Linked DNA regions of Homo sapiens. The protein of the gene in region 2 purifies or fractionates together with the protein of the main gene of each other region. This does not show direct contact. Each region holds a gene or a part of one and is shown on either strand. Other genes may lie near its edges.

Evidence for each region. Proteins that work in one complex are often made in the same cells at the same time.
Region 1: the proteins of ANXA8L1 (region 2) and GOT1 purify together in Homo sapiens (co-immunoprecipitation; one large-scale study listed by IntAct). This does not show direct contact.
Region 3: the proteins of ANXA8L1 (region 2) and SSUH2 purify together in Homo sapiens (co-immunoprecipitation; one large-scale study listed by IntAct). This does not show direct contact.

The regions. Positions count from the first base shown.
Region 1 is NC_000010.11:99,410,125-99,413,972, forward strand, and holds part of GOT1 (aspartate aminotransferase, cytoplasmic), read right to left. Parts: intron 1-3,848. UniProt on the Homo sapiens protein: Biosynthesis of L-glutamate from L-aspartate or L-cysteine. Important regulator of levels of glutamate, the major excitatory neurotransmitter of the vertebrate central nervous system. Acts as a scavenger of glutamate in brain neuroprotection.
Region 2 is NC_000010.11:46,381,387-46,386,366, reverse strand, and holds part of ANXA8L1 (annexin A8-like protein 1), read right to left. Parts: intron 3,789-4,980; coding exon 3,675-3,788; intron 2,912-3,674; coding exon 2,821-2,911; intron 2,162-2,820; coding exon 2,082-2,161; intron 1,594-2,081; coding exon 1,534-1,593; intron 988-1,533; coding exon 894-987; intron 656-893; coding exon 560-655; intron 1-559.
Region 3 is NC_000003.12:8,631,299-8,635,146, forward strand, and holds part of SSUH2 (protein SSUH2 homolog), read right to left. Parts: intron 3,348-3,848; coding exon of another isoform or gene 3,100-3,347; intron 2,698-3,099; coding exon of another isoform or gene 2,498-2,697; coding exon 2,368-2,497; intron 812-2,367; coding exon 751-811; intron 1-750. UniProt on the Homo sapiens protein: Plays a role in odontogenesis.

The DNA.
Region 1 (3,848 bases), about 53 Mb from region 2:
CATCCCTTGCTATTACTTTAAAAGTTTTGCCCCCACATTGTGGTTTACCTGAATTCTTTATGCAAATTGCTACCAAGATGATATAACACAAATGTGCATTTATTTTTTATGGATTTGTCATCCAGCTAAGTTGAATGTCAGTTTCATACATGACTTCACATTGCAGATACCTAAGCCACTCTAGAGTGCTAATACTTCCTAAGCAAATGAGCAAGACCTCCCTTGAACATGGTTTTAACTTCTGGAAACACGATAGATGCATAGATACCAGTGGAAACATTCCCAGGCATAATTTTTCATTTCCTGTTCTCAACTTTTCACTCCACCCTTTCTCTCCCACTACAGAAAGCAAATTCATTTTTTTAAAAATCAGTAGAATACATTAAAAATGTGCTTAGAAGAGATAAACCCACTCCACATTAACTAATCCTTGACATTCATGACATATATGACACTTGAAATATCAAATTCTCAAGAAGTTATCACTCCCTAAAAATCTATTAAATACTGGATGGCTTCAGTGAAACACAAGTTGCTCTAAACATCAGCAACTAACAGAAACAAGTTTTTGGTGAATCAATAATATAGCAATGTGGTCATTCTGTGAACTGATTTTTGGCAAATTGTCCTACAGCCTAAGAATGTCCTGTACTTGTTATAAAGGAAAATCATAACATCAAAGGAAGTAAGTACAGACTTCTCAAGGAGCCAGGCAACTGGACCTGGGTAAACAAGAGTATCCAGAACAAGGGAAATCCAGGAAGACTTGGTATGAAGCTAGATAGAGCAGGCCTCTGTTGGACATGTCAGCATAAGATTGCTGGATTCTAGAACCCTTGTCTGAGATAACAATTTGCCGATACTATGACTTCACCATGAGGAATAGGAGAGCAACCAGGAGCTGCCTGTGGCCAGAGCCATGCTGCATTCATCTGGGTGCCCCCAGCATCTCTCACGGCATCTGGCACATGGTACTACATAAGCATGTGCTGAACTAGATGAAGAAAGAAGACAGTGGTGAAAAGATCTGAGCCACAGCAGAAGCCCCAAGTCGCCTAGAGGCAATCAAAGCGAGAGTGGGATGTCATGATGTGACAATGAGTTATGACCCATGAGCCCTCCTTCCTACAATGCTCAGTAATCTCAAAGCTGAAACAGCACTATGCCAGAGATGAAAAATCGACATTTCTGTCTGGATCCTAAGATCTGAAAGTGGAAAAGTAATACAAGGCAGTGAGGAGTCTAGAAAATAGGTCTCCTCAAAATGGGTAAAGGATCTGGAAATGTTGAATCTGGAGAAGAAAAATCTAAGGGAAGAAACAATTACTGTTGGTTTACTTGTTCACTCATTCTTTCATTTATGTCTCGTCTTTAAGTTTTGGCTCAAATGTCATTTCTATTTCTATCATAACCACCCTAGTTAAAACTGTATCCACTCCTAGAATTCCTAACATGCCACCTCCTGCTCCATTTTTATAGCATTTATCATCTTTAGTATACTACATCATTTTCTTACTGATATAGTCAAAAAGATTACATTTAGAGTCTGTTCCTCTCCCCGAAACTGAATGCAAGGGCAGGGGATTCTGTGTGTTTGAGTCACTGCTGTGCTCCAGCATCTAGAACAGTGCCTGGCTCTAGTAGTGGGCATCTGATGACTAAAGGAATGAATGAATCCAAACCTTTGGAACCTGAGGTACCCGGATAGGAGCCAAATGCTGAAAATCTGCAAGGTAAATAAGCAATGATCACTCTCCTGGGGAAAGTTAGGGCCTTGTGGGAGATGAAGACTTATAAAATTATCCATTATAGTAAGAACAGTTAAGTACTGTTATTCCCAAGCTGTGAACAAAGTCCTGTGATAACTCAGAGAGCTTAAACAACAAGCTCTGCCTAAAATACCTAAGGATTCAGTGTGGAAGTGACCCTTGATCAGCTCTTGAAGGACTTAGAGGTGGGGACTGGACAGCTAGAGCAATAAGGGAGGGCATTCCAAATGGAGAGAAGGGCCAGGCAAAGGTTCTTAGTCTTGACAGGGCCCAGTAGGTCTAGAGAACAGCAAGACTCTTAGAATGTCAGGACCTCTAGTGGAGTGAGGGGAAATCAGCAACTGTAAGAACAGGATGAAGACTGTCACCTGTCACCTACTTTCACTGCATGCCAAGCTCAAAGTCTGGATTTTACCCTACAGGCAATGGGGGAGCTATGGGCGGTGGGGGTGGGGAGTGGGAACAGGTGACATGAGTAGCTTGTTTTGCCAAGGAAGGTCATCCTAGCTGCAGCATGCAGAATGTACTAAAACAGGGAAGAGACTAGAGGCAGGAAGGTAAATTAAGAGGCTATTAGTGAACTAAGACAGCAGCCTGGGAATGGTGAGGCCTTCCAAGCAGAAGAAAGGCTCAGAGCTCGAACAAAAGGCAGCAGAAACCTCTGCAGACTTAAATGTCCCTGTCTGACAGCTTTGAAGAGAGTAGTGGTTCTCTCAGCACGGAGTTTCAGATCTAAGAACGGACAGCCTGCCTCCTCAAGTGGGTCCCTGACCCCTGAGTAGCCTAACTGGGAGGCACCCCCCAGTAGGGGCAGACTGATACCTCACATGGCCGGGTACCCCTCTGAGACGAAACTTCCAGAGGAACGATCAGGCAGCAACATTTGCTGTTCACCAATATTCCCCGTTCTGCAGCCTCCGCTGCTGATACCCAGGCAAACAAGGTCTGGAGTGGACCGCCAGCAAACTCCAACAGATCTGCAGCTGAGGGTCCTGACTGTTAAAAGGATAACTAACAAACAGAAAGGACATCCACACCAAAAACCCATCTGTACATCATCAGAGACCAAAGGTAGATAAAACCACAAAGATGGGGAAAAAACAGAGCAGAAAAACTGAAAATTCTAAAAATCAGAGTGCCTCTCCTCCTACAAAGGAATGCAGCTCCTCACCAGCAACGGAACAAAGCTGGATGGAGAATGACTTTGACGAGTTGAGAGAAGAAGGCTTCAGAAGATCAAACTTCTCTGAGCTAAAGGAGGAAGTTCGAACCCATCGCAAAGAAGTTAAAAACCTTGAAAAAAGATTAGACGAATGGCTAACTAGAATAACCAATGCAGAGAAGTACTTAAAGGACCTGATGGAGCTGAAAACCATGGCACGAGAACTACATGACGAATGCACAAGCTTCAGTAGCCGATTCGATCAACTGGAAGAAAGGGTATCAGTGATGGAAGATCAAATGAATGAAATGAAGTGAGAAGAGAAGTTTAGAGAAAAAAGAATAAAAAGAAACGAACAAAGCCTCCAAGAAATATGCGACTATGTGAAAAGACCAAATCTACATCTGATTGGTGTACCTGAAAGTGACGGGGAGAATGGAACCAAGTTGGAAAACACTCTGCAGGATATTATCCAGGAGAAGTTCCCCAACCTAGCAAGGCAGGCCAACATTCAAATTCAGGAAATACAGAGAATGCCATGAAGATACTCCTCAAAAACAGCAACTCCAAGACACATAATTGTCAGATTCACCAAAGTTGAAATGAAGGAAAAAATGTTAAAGGCAGCCAGAAAGAAAGGTCGGGTTACCCACAAAGGGAAGCCCGTCACACTAACAGCTGATCTCTCAGCAGAAACTCTACAAGCCAGAAGAGAGTGGGGGCCAATATTCAACATTCTTAAAGAAAAGAATTTTCAACCCAGAATTTCATATCCAGCCAAACTAAGCTTCATAAGTGAAGGAGAAATAAAATCCTTTACAGACAAGCAAATGCTGAGAGATTTTGTCACCACGAGGCCTGCCCTACAAGAGCTCCTGAAGGAAGCACTAAATATGGAAAGGAACAACCGGTACCAG
Region 2 (4,980 bases):
ACTCAGTTTGGACTCAAGCCACACATCACTGTTTCTTCAACTGGCAATGAAGGCAGGGGCCAGGCCCCTGGTTCATGTCCAGAAAGATGACTTTGTGCTGGCCAGGGCTTCACAACCACAGCCAGAGTGCTCCCTGCATGGCTGCCATGAGTACACACAGGGTTGGGGCTGGCATAATCACTGGCGTATGCATTTGTGTGCGCACACACACACACTGTCTGTCTCACACACACACACTCACATTCCACCCACAGTCATGCACACACACCCTCAGGCACACACACTCTCACGCACACACACACTCATGCAGACACACCCACACAGCACTGGGCACCACGTGGGCAGCACAGAGAACAATCTTTGGCAGCACACACTGGGACTCTAGAGGTGGAGCAGTCCCTGGGTGAGGGAGACAGGCAGAGTGTGAGTCGGGGGGACATCCCGTGAAGGTGACACAGGGATTCTTTCTCTTGTGGTCGCATCCCTAGGCCCTTTGTTCTTTGGTGCTGCCCCACGGTGAGCCCTGTGGCCTGAAAAACGTGCAAGTCTGAGCTCTTACCCACAGTGAGCATGGCCTCCTCCAGTGAGCCATGGGTCTCACTCTTGATGCTGTCCTCAATGCTCTTGTTGGCAATTTTCTCATACTCTTCAAACACTGTGGAGAGGGCTCTGCTCAGGGGATGGTCAGACCTCCTCGTGATGCCCCTCAGTGTCTCGGATCAGAGATCGCACATCAATTTGCCGCCCTGACCTCCCACTGGTGGCTGGGGAAACAGTCCTGGGCTCCCTGGCTCTCTCCCTAACTCTAGACTTGACAAGGCAGAAGCACGAGGGAGAGGCTCATGGCCAGGACACCCCTGTGGCCCCGGCCCCAGCCCCTCCCTCCCTGGTACCTCTCAGCAGGTGAGTGGCACTGCGCGTGCACAGGATGGTGATGAATTTCATCTCATCAGTCCCACGAATCTTCTCGCCTGCCGCATACAGATCCTAGCATTGGGACACCCACAATAAGCCAGTGAGGGAGACCAGGGAGGTGAGGGACTGAGCCCCAGAGTCCCAGAGCTGTGGCCATGGCCTGGCCCTGTCCACTCTGCCAGGCCAGCATGCTCCCCTGCTTGGTCGTCTCTGACAGGGAGCTCCCCTTTCTCTAGCAGCTCTGGCTTAGAATATTTTCTCTATCCTGGGCCACAAGCTGCTCTAGGAACTGCCTGGTCCCCAGACTTCCCTCTGCCAGCAGGCAGACCTACAGAGACCCGGACACCTGTGTCCAGCACTGGGGCCTAGCGCCCCCGGGTTCATGGGCTGTTCCTGCCAGGACAGAGCTTTAGTGCTCCCCCACCCCCAAGTCACACTCCTTCCTCCCGAGTCTCCCAACACCCTCACTCTCCTCCCCAGACACCACAGGACAAAGGCCTATAGGGAGCTGAGCTGGGTGGGTCCCAGCCCAGTGTCAGAGAAAGCCCCCGTGGGCAGAGGAGCCGGAGTCCAGATGGCAGGGGGTGGGGCCACATGGCCGGCTGGGCGCAGCCTCACCTGTGCGTCTTGGAGGGCCAGTGCCGGGTCCACAAAGCTGCTCACATCATCCCTGCTGCCCTAGGAACAGAGGAGGTGGCTCTGTAAGGCAGGCCAGCTGACCAGAGCATTAAGGGCACAGGGGGGATCCTGGGCTTGGAGGGTAGGCATGGCTCTGCTGCTCTTTGGCTGTGGAAACTTCGACAAGCCAGTTATTCTCTTCAGCCCTTGGTTTCCTCATTTGTACAACGGGGGTGGTAAGGACTGCCTCATAAGGCTTGGCGGATTCAGTGAGCTAAGGTAAGCAAAGTGCCTGGCATGAGGTCTGCACGAAGGACCTGCTCTCCTCCCGCTTCCAGGATGCTCTCACATGGCTGAGTAAGGACAAGTGTGGGGGCTCTGCAGTTGGGACCCTCTAACCATGCTGAGACACACCCAATGAGCCCTGGCTGCTGGGCTATCCCATGCCCATACCCTGACTCTTGTGGCGCTATTCAAGGGCTGCTCCCTGGGGTGGAGCTGTTGGGACTCCCAAACCAAGGCACTCCCAAGAGCCTAGGCTGTGACACCTGCAGGAGGCACACCAGGATCCTCTCCAGGTAGCCACTTGTGTCTGCTTGGATGTCCTCCTCCAGGCTGGACCCATAGTCTGCAGGGAAACAGGACCATGAGGCACAAGCAGAGGCCCACAGCCTACCCGGGGCCTGCTTTCCTCCTTCCAGCCCTGTTCCCCATACTTCTCCTTATTAAAGCCTTCTAGGAAAGAAAGTCCTTGGCACAGGGCATGGATGCAATGCCCGGGTGTCCAAGTGGCTGTCGCCTGGGTGGTGCTTCACAACTAGAAGCGACATGCGTACCCAACCAAGCTCAAAGCACAAGATGGACCAGGTCAGAGAGCCAGGCTAGGGGCTGCCAACCAAGCTCCATTTCATCTCAAGGCTTGGCAAAGCCAAAGCCTCCAGGAAAACTCCCCACTAGGTACATGATGTGGAGGACTGACTGGCCTCTGCTAGCCTGGGGTCCACACCCCCTACTACCACAGTCCTCAAGGGCAGAGATTTTAGTTGGTCACAGGCCTCTCTCCCCTGTAAGAGGAGCTGGTGAGCTTACAGATCAAGTCTGAATCATGTTCAGTGTCACCATCAGGCACAGATCTTGGCATACGGTAGGTGCTCAGCACCTGTGGGTAAAAAAGTCCCCAAAGGGTCCTTTCTAGTGTGGCCCAGGTTAATTCTTGATCCTTGTTCCCTGCCAGGCTGCCAAAGCTTGTGGCCACTCCTGAGCCCCTCCATCTGTGCCACCCCTTACCTTCCTCATACGCCTTCATTATCTCCCGCAGCTGGTTCTTGGTCCGAGAGGCCAGGATCTCAATGATGACACCCTCCTTGGTTCCTAAGCCCTGTGGACAGAAACCTCTGCCTGCTGGAGTGCTCTGCCATGACCTTCTGCTCTGTCCACACCTTCTTTTCTCAAGATGCCTGAGCCTCAGGAAGGACCTCACTGCCCTGCCCCACTTGAAGTGGGAGGATGTGATGAGAAAATCACATGCTTGTCTTCAGTGATGAACATTGAGGGCAAGTGCTGTGACGGGGAAGCCCTGTCTCAGCTCTCCCTCCTTAGCTGGGTGGTCTCAGACAGGCTGCTCCATGTCCTGGAGCCTAAGCATCCCGATCCATAAACAGGAATAAGAAGCCTCCCCTGCGCCAAAGATAGATTAGGGAGCGTGGGTGTAAAATGCCTGGCAGTGCCCATGCAGCAAGTGTCTTTCCAAACAAAATGACTATAGTTACTGGGTCCCCATCCTTATTAATCTGCAAAAGCAAAGAGTAGTGAGAGGTAAAGGGAAACCCAAGGGGCTGTGCCTGGGACTGTAGAGGTGGGTTTCCAATACCACTGTACACCTGAGCTCGTGAGGTTCTGAGAAGTACTGATTTTGGCTTCATCACGGCCACTCAACGTGTCAATCAGGCACCAGTGACTCCAGGTGTTGGGTGCAGTCTGAGCAGCAGGCTGCCTGCTCACTGGGCCCAGTTATGGCCCATATGGCCATTCCAAACAGTGGCTCAAGGGGAGCTCTGGGCTGTAGGTTCCCGGTCCCCGCATTGCCCCTACCCAGTCATGTGAGCACCCCTGCCACTCCCCTGCCCTGTCTGCCTGGTTACCTTCATGGCGTCATGCAGCTCCTTGGCTTCGTATCTGTATGGCGGATACATAAGGGCCACAATGAGCCTCTCAAACTTGCCACTGAGCTCAGACTTCAAGGTCTCAGTGAGGTCCTAATGCGGGAACAGGGAAAGGTGATATTTGTCATAAGCCAGGCCCACCTGAGTGCAGGCAGCGGAGTGGTGGCTGGGTCCAGGGGCTTGGGCTGGATTCTGCATGGGCCTTGCCACGTGCTGGCTGGGTTTCTTGGGCCAGCTCCTTAGCTTCTCTTAGCATCAGTATCTTTACCGGTTACACGGAGAGAAACGTGCTCCTGCTTCATCCCGTTGCTTAGGGGGTTGTGTGTGACTCAATTCAGCATTCAGTGCAGTGCTGGGCACATCATAAGCTCTCAGTAAAATGAAATTGGTATTGCTAGCTAGACTGCAAGCTCTGAGTATGGCATCACCATAAAATACCTGTCACTTGGCACTCAATGAATGAATGCATGCCTGAATTAAAGACTTCGTCTCACATGTGCCTCCTTCTAAGGTCACATGTTGCTACGAGGAGCCACCAGGCTACATCAGCTGATCTACAGAGCAGCAGAGAGATCAAGGGCTTTGTCAGACCTGGATTTTAATCCCCACCTTGTTGATTACAGGCTCTGGGACCTTGGGCAACTTAAAACCTCTCTGAGTGCCAGTTTCCCCAAATGTTTGAATACAAAGAATGTATCACTGTGAGGACTAAGAGAGGGAAACTGTAAAAATGCATACTGGGTTCTCCAAGAGAATATTTGAGCTGATCTTCCTTCGTTACATCTCCAAACTAATGATATGAGTCACTAGAGGCTTGAGGCAACCATGGCTGTGCACATATTTAATCCTGTGTTTACTGTGTACCCCCAAATGTCAGGCTTTGTCCTAGGGGTGGAGTGCAGGTGGGAGGAGAAACAAAGGGCCTGGCATGCTTACTCCAGGCTCTTAGAATTCCCAGGTGGCAGAAGGGACGAGGTGTGGGTGCAAGCAGCTCGACTGAGGAAAGCATGCCCACGCCCCAGAACAGAGCAAAGCCAGGCCTGCATGCCTGGGGCATGGAAAAGAGAAGGTGGTCTGGGCTCAGAGGGCAGGGCGAGATAGCCTGGGGGCAGGGAGACAGACCTCCAGTGGGGCCTGTTGGGTGCATGAGAAGGAATGCTGTGAGAGAAGAGGCAGGAAAGGAAGCAAGGAAGGCCAGCCCCCGGCCCGGGCTCTGACACCTAAAAGTAGATCTGCCAGATAAAACACAGGGCAGCCAGTTACATTTGAATTTCAATAAAGAACA
Region 3 (3,848 bases), on a different chromosome or scaffold from region 2:
CACATACTGAGGGGATGACACACAAGAATTGTCACCATTATCATCACCATCCCCTTCACCATCCCATCTTCTTCCTCTTGCTCTGTTCAAGGAGACAGACAGCACACCATCACAATAAGATATGATAGGATATGATACATGCTTTGGACAAGAGTTGCATAAAGGGCTCTGAAAACTCAGAAGACTGGCCCATCCTGCTGGGAGGGGAGCAGCAGGAGGAGAAATCCTGAAAAGCTTCTTAAAAGAAGTGACACGTGAGCTGAGTCTTGAAGAATGGACCTGAGCGGTCTGTTAGGGAAAACAAGGAGGACATAGATCTTCCCAAAGAGAGAAGCTTAGGCCTCCAGTGGGGGCTCAGCAGAAGGTGGGGTGGCAAGGCGAATGGGGAGCACAGGGGCCTAGAAGCTTAGGAGGAATTAGGGGTGGCATGAGGGGGTGTAGGTGAATGCTTAGACACGCATGCTGCTTTACAGCCCGGCCCCGTGTGGCAGCACCAGACTGTAGCAAAAGCAAATGCTTGGCTTTTTCAGGACCTCCTGCTTCCTGGGCAGGAAGCATTTCCTAAGATAAGCACTGGAAAGTCTCTGAGATGAAAGTCCATCCTCTCATTTTGCAGGGGGTAAGGAAGCCAAGGCTCCAAGCAGAAGACCATCTTATTTGAGATGAGTGCCTGAGCCAAGTCCTGATATTTTCCACCAGCACCCTGACTTATTTGCCCCCAGTTAAACTAATTTCAGACAATTCACTTACTAGTAAAGGGTTGAAATGTCCACTCGCTTATCCTGGATTCACTAAAGGTCTCCAGACGGTACTAAAAGGAAAAAAACAGCATGTTCACACTCGTGCCCCTTATGAAGACAGAGCATTATGCAAAAAGATGAAGCTGTTACCCTCCCAGGGCTCAGTGGGGAAACTGAGAGGTCCATGCACAACACCCTCGGCTGCTGGAACTGGCTGACAACAGCGATTTCTGTTCCACGTGCCCCCATGTCTGCAGGGAAGTCAGCCAGCCCCAGGAAATCTCCCCTGACAGGCTCAAACTAGAGCTAATTCAGTTCCCCATGAATTTATACAAAGATTCTATGAGACAAGCTTCAGAGCAGTAGCTGTCTTTGATAGATGGAGGTCCCTGGAATCTATGGCTTTGAGATTTCCCTTATGGAGGAATTTATCTCCCTGATATCAAGATCTTCCTTCTTGATCTTCATCCATAGGGTGACAGAATGGGAAGAGGTCTTGGACATCACTTGCCCTCTCCTTTTACATGTGAGGAAATGGAGGCTCAGAGAGGTCAGCTGACTTGCCCAAGGTCACACAGCCACACAGTGGCCTCTTCTTTCAGATTCCTGCTCTAACCACTGCCTGCAAGTGATTATGTGCTCCTCAGAGGGTGGCTGGATGAGCAGCACTAGAAAATGTGACTGTAAAAGCTGCTCCTCTGCTCTGTCAATACAGGAGACAGAAGTGCCTGTCAGAGGCAGGACTTCCCTGCAGCAATGAATAAAGAATTTCTTGGCACAGTCATGATCTGGGGGAGGCAGAGGGAGCTGAAGTCTAGTGGCAGGTAGATGAACCTCTCTCAGCCCATGCCTTGTGGAAGTATGAAGTGAGGACATAGGCTTTGAGGCTACCAAATCTGAGTTTGAATCTCACCTCTGTCACTTCTAGCTGCATCTTCTTGGGAAAATCACTTTGCCTCTTTAAATTTCCAATTTCTCGTCTGTAAACCAGTGACAGTGATGCTACCGTATAGGGCAGCCATGAGGATTTGACAAGGCGTGTGTGTAGCATGCGTTCTATGATGCCTGGCATGTTCAAGCCTGTCAGTGGTGTTTGATGACGCCTTTTTTTTTTTTTTTTTTGAGTTGGAGTTTCGTTCTTGTTGCCCAGGCTGGAGTGCAATGGCACCATCTCAGCTCACCACAACCTCCGCCTCCCAGTTTCAAGCAATTGTCCTGCCTCAGCCTCCCGAGTAGCTGGAACTACAGGCACCCACCACCACGCCCGGCTAATTTTTGTATTTTTAGTACAGATGGGGTTTCACCATGTTAGTCAGGCTGGTCTAACCTGACTCACCTCAGGTGATCCTGACCTCAGGTGATCCACCCACCTCGGCCTCCCAAAGTGCTGGGATTACAGGCATGAGCCGCCGCACCCGGCCTGACACTTGTTCTTTTTATTATCACTCACAGCCACAGACAAGTCAAGTTGCAGATGGGATTCAACATCACCACCGCTCACACTCAAACACACTGCCCCCAGGACTCCTTTCCCCTGGCCACATCACACAAACAGGCCTCCACTGTCCCAAAGCCCCCAGCTCCCCAGCCCCCCGGCCAAGGCCCCCCACCGGCCCTGGCCTCTCACCCTGCAGAGGGTCTGCCGCTTCAGCTCCTGGATGACGAGGTCTCCAGCCACCGTGCTGCTGTAGCAGCACTTAGAGTCCACAAAGCTGAGGAGGGCTTCCCGGGCCACCTCCTCCGTCATCGCAGGGACTCTGCAGGGGACCGAACAGAGAGGCGGGGGCTTCTGGGAAGGGCCTGTGGACTCACGCGGGCCAGCCAGCCTCCTCAACGTGCAGGCGAGAAACTGAGGCCACGGTAGTGGTAAAGCCCTCAGCAGTCCAACTGGGGAGGGCATCTCCTGCAAAGGGGACCATGTGAACGGGTGCCCAGCGTGAGAACGGGGCAGGTTTTCCTAGAGAACAGCCAAAAACACTTTAGTTGAAATGTGGAGCTTAGGAGAAAAGCTGATAGAATCCTGCAACTGAAGAAACACAACCTTAGAGAGGAATTGTACCATTTTATAGATAAGAAAAACAGAGGTCCAGAGAGGATGTCGCACAGTTAAAAGGAGGCAGAGACAGGCTAAATAAGGCTCCTGCCCTCGGGTACCTTGACCTTAGCCAGAGGAGCTGCTAGCAACATGATGGGAAGACCCCAGCCAGGCACTGGCCCAGGGCTGATGGCAGCGCCCATGGAGACTCACCCTGAGGACCGTGGGTGGGACGACAGACAGGGACCCTAACCTCGGCCCTCTTTCTGCATGCCTCCCCCTCCTCCTGGAAGTCCCTTCCCTGAGGCCATGCCACCCCCTTACTGAAGTCTTTCTGGCCCCAACACCTCCAAGAGGAAAGAATCCTCCTTCCTCCCCTTGCATCTTCATGCATTTCTCCATGGCAGCCCTGAGAGCCATTAATCCACAATTCTGCACACTTGTATCTCCAGCATCCTCCAGCCCTGGCACACAGAGGGGCCCGTCTGTCTTCAGATCCATGGATGGCAGCACAAGAGACACTGTGGGCTGGAGAGGCCAGAGATGACTCCCCGGAGGAAGCAGGGTTCTTCCTAAGCATGGAAAGTGGGTGTCCATGGAGGAGAAGGGGGTTGCTTCTGGCAGCAGCAGGGCCAGAAGCCCCCGGGAGAAGCCTCTCATGCTGCCCAGGTGAGAGGCTGGATTGAAATAGGGGGCAGCTCCACCTTCTCTCCGCACAAAGCTGGCTGGAAACCCTGAGCTCGGCCCTGAGTCCTCTCAAAACAAGGTGGATATGGGCCTTTCCGCGGATCTAGACCAGGGTCAGCAAACTTCTGCAAAGGGCCACATAGTGATATTTGAGGTTTCGTAGCCCACATAGTCTCTGTCTCAATTACTCAGCTCTGGAGTAAAAGCTGCCAGAGACAATACACAGCCAATTGAGTGTAACTGTGTTCCAATAAAACTTTACTCCAGAAATGTGCAGTGGACTGGATTTGGCCCACAGACAGGAGTTTGCAACCCTGATCTAGACTATGGTTTTCAACGCTGGCTTTGTTGCCAAACCACCTGAAGAGCTTGGTAAAATGTAAATC